Linked DNA regions of Homo sapiens. The protein of the gene in region 1 interacts with the protein of each later gene in a pairwise test. Each region holds a gene or a part of one and is shown in the gene's direction. Other genes may lie near its edges. The genes, in order: KIAA1958 and FAM124B.

Region 1 (3,822 bases):
CGATGATTTAGGCACCCCACCAGGTAAGCAAACTCAGCATTAAGGATGTAGTTATAAAATTAGCGCATAATGGTAGGTAATGCAGTTTGAAACCATTTCACTCAGGTAAAATGCAACCTGACCACATTATTTAAAAATCAGCAGAATTTTCTAATAACTACTCTGAGTGCAACAACAAGTGAAAAAGGAGCTCAAAGAGTGCTCATTAAGAGTAACAATAATTTCTAGGGACCTTGACTTTGCATTTGAGGAAAATCTTGTGTAACTTTATTCCATTATGCTCCTAATATGCTTTCTAATCCCAAATTAAAACTCTAATACAAATTCATTTTGTAGAAGTCTTAAAATCAGTCCTCTTTCTTTTTGAAAACATTATTTTAGTATTTATTTTAATTAATTGGTTTCTTAAAAAATCATACACTAGTCATTGACATATGTAATACTTCCTTTACCAGAGAAGACTCAACCAATGCTGCCTTAAGATTTAATGTTATTCCCTTTTTAGTCACTGTGCATTTATAAGTTTGTTTACTAGTTGACCTTTCCTGAATAGAGATTAGTTTCGGCATTTCTCCATCTGTATATAAATAACAGGTAATATTTAATCATCAGTGTATGACTTGATATCACATAACGTTCTGGTGTGGTTTCCTGTAGTGATCTTAGGGTTTTGATTTAAAAGAAATACACAAAACATTAGGTACAATTTCCTTTAGTTTGCTAAACACCCAAAGGATATTTTGTTTTGTTGGTTCTGCACTTAAACTGAAATACAACCTATGTGAACTATTGGGCAAAGCCTGCAGCCTAATTAATTAAAACCTCCATTTTTATTTGAATAGATTCAAGTAGAAATTGCCGTTAGGAATCACTGGGATCTTTTCGGATTTTGACCTTTTCAAAGGTAGCAATAACTACTCCAGAGGTTGTAATCTTTCTGTTGGTAGTGGCTTTTCATCAGCTAAATAATCATCTCTGCCTCAAATGTGTTGCCTGTCACCTAGTTGATGTTCCATAAAATCCCTGGGTTCTGAAGTGAATTATTATAATTAATAATCAGGAGGGCGAATCTTCAGTGGCATCTGATGGAATGAAAGAACTGTGTCTGAGCAGCCTAAAAGCTGTTTGTGACATGCCACCTTGGGAAACAAGAGTGAGGAAGAAAACACAGTCATCAAGTGCCAGCGTGTGCCACCCATTGTACTAGGTACTTTATTATGCATTTATGTATATGTGTGTGTGTCTGTGTATACACACAAACACATATACATAAGTGTTTACACACACACACGCACAATATGTGGTTAAGCCTGGTAAGCCTGCTAAAATGGCAAAGCGGCCTGGCGCGTGGCTCACGCCTATAATCCCAGCACTTTGGGAGGCCAAGGTGGGCAGATCACTTGAGGTCAGGAGTTCAAGATCAGGACCAACATGGTGAAACCCCATCTCTACTAAAAATACAAAAATTAGCCGGGCGTGGTGGCAGGTGCCTGTAATCCCAGCTACTTGAGAGTCTGAAGCAGGAGAATTGCTTGAACCTGGGAGGCGGAGGTTGCAGTGAGCCGAGACCATGCCACTGCACTCCAGCCTGGGCAACAAAGCTAGACTCCATCTCAAAAAAAATAAAAAATAAAATGGCGAAGCACCTGTCCATGTGTTTGGCCAAAGCCGTCCTCCGAGGTCTTAAGGGGGCCAGAGTAGCAGTCCTCGTTGGCGTTCTAAGGCAGTTGTTCTGGCTTCCAGTCAGCTCTAAACCTTACCTTCTGGGGACTCCAGGATTTTCTGCTCTTGGCCTAATGCAAGAGAAAGGAGAATCCCCAGAGAAAGAAGTGGGGAGGTAAAGAGCGTTTTCTCCACTTACCTTTGGGTTTTTTATGCTCCCAAGTAGAAATAAATATCAAGAATTCACAGGTTGACTGAAGCACAAGTTGCCCCTGGGCTCTGTGTCAAGGCTGGTGGTACTGTAGGTGTTATGAGAGGACCCATAGGGTGTCCTTCAGGTGAGCTGTTGTCCACAGCACCTTTCATATCTGCTGTAAAGGGAGCCCTACTTTCTGTCTATCCCCCCCACCGCCGGCCCCCGGAATCTAAGCAGACTCCCTGTTGGAAGCTTACTCTGGCACAGAAGCTAGGATGTCACCTTAAAGGGTGTGATTCAATTGAATATAGTTTAGTGCGGTACCAGGCACATCATAAGCATGCAATAAATGTTAGCCAGCTTAGTTATAACTTTTGGTAATAATTAATATTATTTAACTAATTTGCATTATACCACTTATTTCTTCCATTATGGAGATTCTGTCTCCCTTAAACTGTTAAACTTGAAGAAGAAACCAAACATGATAATCTGGTCAAGTTAACACATTTTCGCCCATGAATTCTACCTCCAACACAGCCAAGCTCTGATACCTCAGATATAAGCAAAAACAAGTGAAGGAAGAACAGAAAAGCCTTATGGGGCTTTATGAGAAGGTTTTTCCATTGTTTAGTGTGTTTGCAAAAAGGAATTTTATGGAAGTACCTAACCAAAGCTGTGACAGAAGGGTCTCCTTGGTCATGTGGCATTTTCCAGCTTTCCTTGGATTTTATGCTACATTAATTTGCCCTGGCTGATAAATGGTGTTTGAAGAAATGTGAAATTTTGTTACTTTGATTTTTATTTTAATTCAAGCTTATTAAAAGCATCAAGCATTATATGCCACACTCAGCATTTTCATAGACATAGTCATTAGGAGAATCTGGACAAAGTAATACTCTTGTAGAAACGGAAGCATCTTGCTGTACTTGAAAGATAACTGGACTCAGAGCTACTTCACTCCTCACTTGGGCAAATGCCGATATCACTTTGCTTAGCTATAAAGTGCCATCAGTGGGATGGATCGTCTTCACGGTGAACCGTGTTACACTTCTGCAATTCCTCAAGTTCATATTAATTAGGAAGTGGCAGAGCTAGGACACAAAATTCCTAATTCCTGAAGATAGTTAGTCTCCTAATTAAGTGCTTCTCACTATATTGGGATGCCTTCTTTAGGAATAAGACTTTCCTTTAATTTTCAAGTTCCACAACTTCTAAAATTATTTTGCTATCTCGAAGCAGCAGAATATTGATCATTTTTCTCAGTTTAGGCTAACACAGTCCACACCATTACCACTTAAATAAAGTAACCGAATGCTAAATATTATCCTTATCAAACATCCATCACTTTGTTGCTTTTATGAGATGTAGATTGCTAAAAACTTTTGAGCTAGTAGACGTTACCTTTAAGCATCAATGAATGCAAACAGTGAAGACCTCAAAGAAGAGTTACCTCATTTTCTCTACATGATCTCCAATGTAGTCTCAGATAAGGCCCATACATAGTTAAAAGCTGGTAACAGCTCTGAACAGAAGTATGTATTAAATGTTTCAAACTTGTATATATTTTTGAATGCTTTTGTTTTTGGAGTGAATTTTTAATACTCTGTGTTAAAAGAAAAACATTCCATCTTGTAGGCAGTGTTCCTCAGTAAAAATCTTTGTTGCATTTTCCCATATAAATGAATCACCCTTATTAAAACAGGAGGAGGGAGGGATTTGTGGTGACCTACCGCTGCCCTCCCTTTCTAAGAGAAGAGGAGGCCATGGGGTATGATAACTAAATGAACATCTCTGGAAGTTCCTCCGTCTGATATGTGTATTCTGACATAACAGAATTTCCCAAGACTTCTTTGAGGAAGGCTGTCCACGCTTCAGGCAAAGTTTACCCATTATTATTATGATTTTGAATATTCCTTGTTCATTACAGTCCAGAAAATCTGCAGAAGTTCTCCATGTTCAGTGGT
Region 2 (3,822 bases), on another chromosome or scaffold:
TTATAAAACCCCATAATTTCCAAGGCATCTAAAATTTCTTTCAGTTTTAGCGACTCTCTAGTACTTAAAATCAACCTCATGGTCAAACAAAAATGTAATGTGTGTGTGCAGCAAGGGACATGATTTTAATCATTCCTGTCTTTAAGGCTGACTGACATTTTTGCTATGGAACCACAGTTTAAACAACTTAGTTACTTTGGAAAGTTGAGTCACATTTGGGGAGTGTAGAAGAGTTTTTTGGATAAAGAGAAACTCCATGAATTGTATGAAAAGAGCCCTCTTCCTCTCTGGATTGTCCCAGGAGCCTGGCCACTTCTCAGGTGTGAATGGGGCATCAGCCCCTCACTCTTTTGTTTTTGAGACAGAGTCTCTCTCTGTTGCTCAGGCTGGAGTGCAATGGTGTGATCTCAGCTCACTGCAACCTCTGCCTCCCGGGTTCAAGCAATTCTTGTGCCTCAGCTTTCCCAAGTGGCTGAGACTACAGGTGCCTGCCAACATGCCCAGCTAATTTTTGTATTTTTAGTGGAGATGGGGTTTCACTATGTTGCCCAGGCTGGTCTCAAACATCTGGCCTCAAGTGACCACCTGCCTCAGCCTCCCAAAGTGCTGGGATTATAGGCATGAGCTACCACGCCCAGCTGCCTCTCACTCTTGATAGCCCCCTTGGACATCACCTTTGTCCTGACCTCCAAACCTCAGAGACTTCTGCTTCCTCACTCCAAAACACGCTTTGATCTCCTCTTGTTAAGTCAATGAGTCTAAGCTTTTGCAAACAGAGTGAGAGATCGCCTTCTGGAAAATTCTGCTTCTGGTGTCATATAATAAAAGTGCCTGAGGAAAGTGTGTAAAGGCTCAGCCATAATCCAAAGACAACACATTGTAGCTCCTAGATAGCTTTTGATTCTTTGAATGGAGTGAATTTTTCAGGATAGAAAATTCTTGGGCGTGGTGGCTCAGGCCTGTAATACTAGCACTTTGGGAGGCTGAGGCAGGTGGATCACTTGAGGCCAGGAGCTTGAGACCAGCCTGGCCAACATGGTAAATCCCCCTGTCTACTGAAAATACAAAAACTAGCTGGGCATGATGGTGTGCACCCGTAGTCCCAGCTACTCGGGAGGCTGAAGCAGGAGAATCGCTTGAACCAGGGAGGCAGAGGATGCAGTGAGCCGAGATTGTGCCAGTGAACTCCAGCCTAGATGACAGAGCAAGACTCTGTGTATTAGTCTGTTTCACACTGCTGATAAAGACAGGCTGGAGACTGGGAAATTTACAAAAGAAAGAGGTTTAATTGGACTCACAGTTCCACGTGGCTTGGGAAGCCTCACAATCATGCAGAAGGCAAGGAGGAGCAGTCGCATCTTACATGGATGGCGGCAGACAAAGAGAGCTTGTGCAGAAAACTCTTGTTTTTAAAACCATCAGATATTGGGAGACTCATTTACTATGAGTGAATTAATTCACTGTTCACTCATGCCTTAAATAGCACCCCAGTCACCTCTTGAATGCTTTGCTGCTTAAAAATTTCTTCTGCCAGATACCCTAAATCATCTCCCTCAAGTTCAAAGTTCCACAAATCTCTAGGGCAGGGGCAAAATGCCGCCAGTTTCTTTGCTAAAACATAATGAGAGTCACCTTTGTTCCAGTTCCCAATAAGCTCCTCATCTCCATCTAAGACCACCTCAGCCTAGACCTTATTGTTCATATCACTATCAGCATTTTTGTCAAAGTCATTCAACAAATCTCTAGGAAGTTCCAAACTTTCCCACATTTTCCTGTCTTCTGAGCCCTCCAGACTGTTCCAACCTCTGCCTGTTACCCAGTTCCAAAGTCGCTTCCACATTTTCAGGTATCTGTTCAGCAATGCCCCACTCTACTGATACCAATTTACTCTATTAGTTTGTTTTCACGCTGCTGATAAAGACATACCCGAGACTGGGCAATTTACAAAAGAAGAGGTTTAATGAACTCATAGTTCCATGTGGCTGGGGAGGCCTCAAAATCATGGCGGAAGGCAAAGAGGAGCAAGTCACATCTTACATGGATAGCAGTAGGTGGCAAAGAGAGGGCTTGTGCAGAGAACTCTCATCTTTAAAACCATCAGATCTCATGAGACTCATTCTCTATCACGAGAACAGCACAGGAAAGACCCACTCCCATAATTCAATCACCTCCCACTGGGTTCCTCCCACGACACATGGGAATTGTGGCAGTTATAATTCAATATGAAATTTGGGTGAGGACACAGCCAAACCATATCACTCTGTTTCGAAAAGAAGAAAAGAGGAGAGAAGAGAAGAAAAGAAAAGAAAATCCAGCCTAAACTTCCTTGGGTCCTGGGGAGAGGGGCTGGGTAGCGAGTCTGGCTTCTGTAAGTGAGTAGTCCAGGCCTTACACAGTGTGCTCAGGATCCAGATCCCAGCTCTGTTATCACTGTCTTGGCCCTATCCTCAGCCAGGCATCCGCCAGGGTCGCCAGCTGGCTGCTAGCAGCTCTGAGGGTTACATCCTTCATGTGGATTCCAAGTGCCTTGCCCCACCATGGCGCAACAAAATGTCTGGACTTCAGTTAGACCAACTAGGATCAGATTCTCTTCTCTAAATCAATTATTACGTGCAGGAAAGTGAGATTATATGGATCAGTTTAGCCCCGAGGCAAAGGCTCTGGCTTCTACCCCTAGATGCTGTGTGGTGTTCTGTGGGACTTTTAGGGAAGGTTGTGGGTCTCCAGAGAAGATCAGGGCGGAGGAGACAAATACAGAGTGGTCCCAAATGGCTGATGTTCAGCAAAAGTAAGAAAATTATACCTATTAAAGGAAGAACCATAACCACAAACTAACCTCTCTGCAGACCATCCCTCCACATGGCCAGGATGGAGGCGTGTGTGCAGAAGACCTGAGTGTGAGGGGAGCTAGGCCGAGGAGGGGCAGTGAGAAAGCTTTCCTGAGTAGCAATGCCCAGATCTGCGTGAGCTGGGTGGCCCAGGAGGAATTAGCCAGTTGGAGAAGGGAGCAAGGGTGTCTCAAACAGGTGACCGTGGGTGACGATGTTGGTGTGGTGCTGCTTAGCAGGCCATGCTCAGCAAACTTCCTGAGGTTTCATGTGGCTGGAGTGAAGGGAGGGGGAGTCAGGGGAAGAGGATGGGCAGGTGGCCTGAGGCTAGATCAGTGGGAATGTGGTCAGCCACTGGAATGTAAGTACCAAGAGCGGGGGGACTTTTTGGGCTCACTCCTGTGAACCTAGAACCTAAGGTCAGTGTCTGGCACATGGTAGGCAAAAACATCCTTCTACAAATGAACCCTGGCTAAGTAGCTTCTATTCTATCCTTGGTGAAATGAGCAGTCACTGATGAGTCCTATGAATGGAACTGACATGGATTATTTGTGTTATGAGGGTCAAATGAGAGAATGTACATGGTGGTGCTTGGTAAAGTAGAAGCTCCTGGAGACCATGTAACTGCGGTGCAATTGTGATCTGTGCATGTGAGAGGCTGTCAGCTGTCTCTGCCAGCGCGCCCAGTGAGCAATGCGTTTTCCACATGACCTCTTGCCATTGCAGACAGTCTGATGCCTCTCAGAGTCTAGAATGGGTGGTTTTGATGACAGCGATATGAGCATATCAAATAGATGTTCAGTAAATGAATGTATGAGTACATGAGAAGGCAAGTCCATGTTTATTCATTCCTCAGAACTTTGTTGAGTTCTTGCTCTGGGCCAGACATTGTTTTTCCTTTGGCAGTTTTAATTCTGCTGTCTCAATTCTTAGTGGGTGCAAAATGATAGTGGGTTCAACCTTCCCTTTATTCGTTCAAACAGTCCCTCTGCTT

The links.
Region 2: the proteins of KIAA1958 (region 1) and FAM124B interact in binary tests that used the Homo sapiens proteins (3 or more experiments, as listed by UniProt).

Annotation. Positions count from the first base shown.
Region 1 is NC_000009.12:112,661,177-112,664,998, forward strand, and holds part of KIAA1958 (uncharacterized protein KIAA1958), read left to right. Parts: 3' UTR 1-3,822.
Region 2 is NC_000002.12:224,395,513-224,399,334, reverse strand, and holds part of FAM124B (protein FAM124B), read left to right. Parts: intron 1-3,822.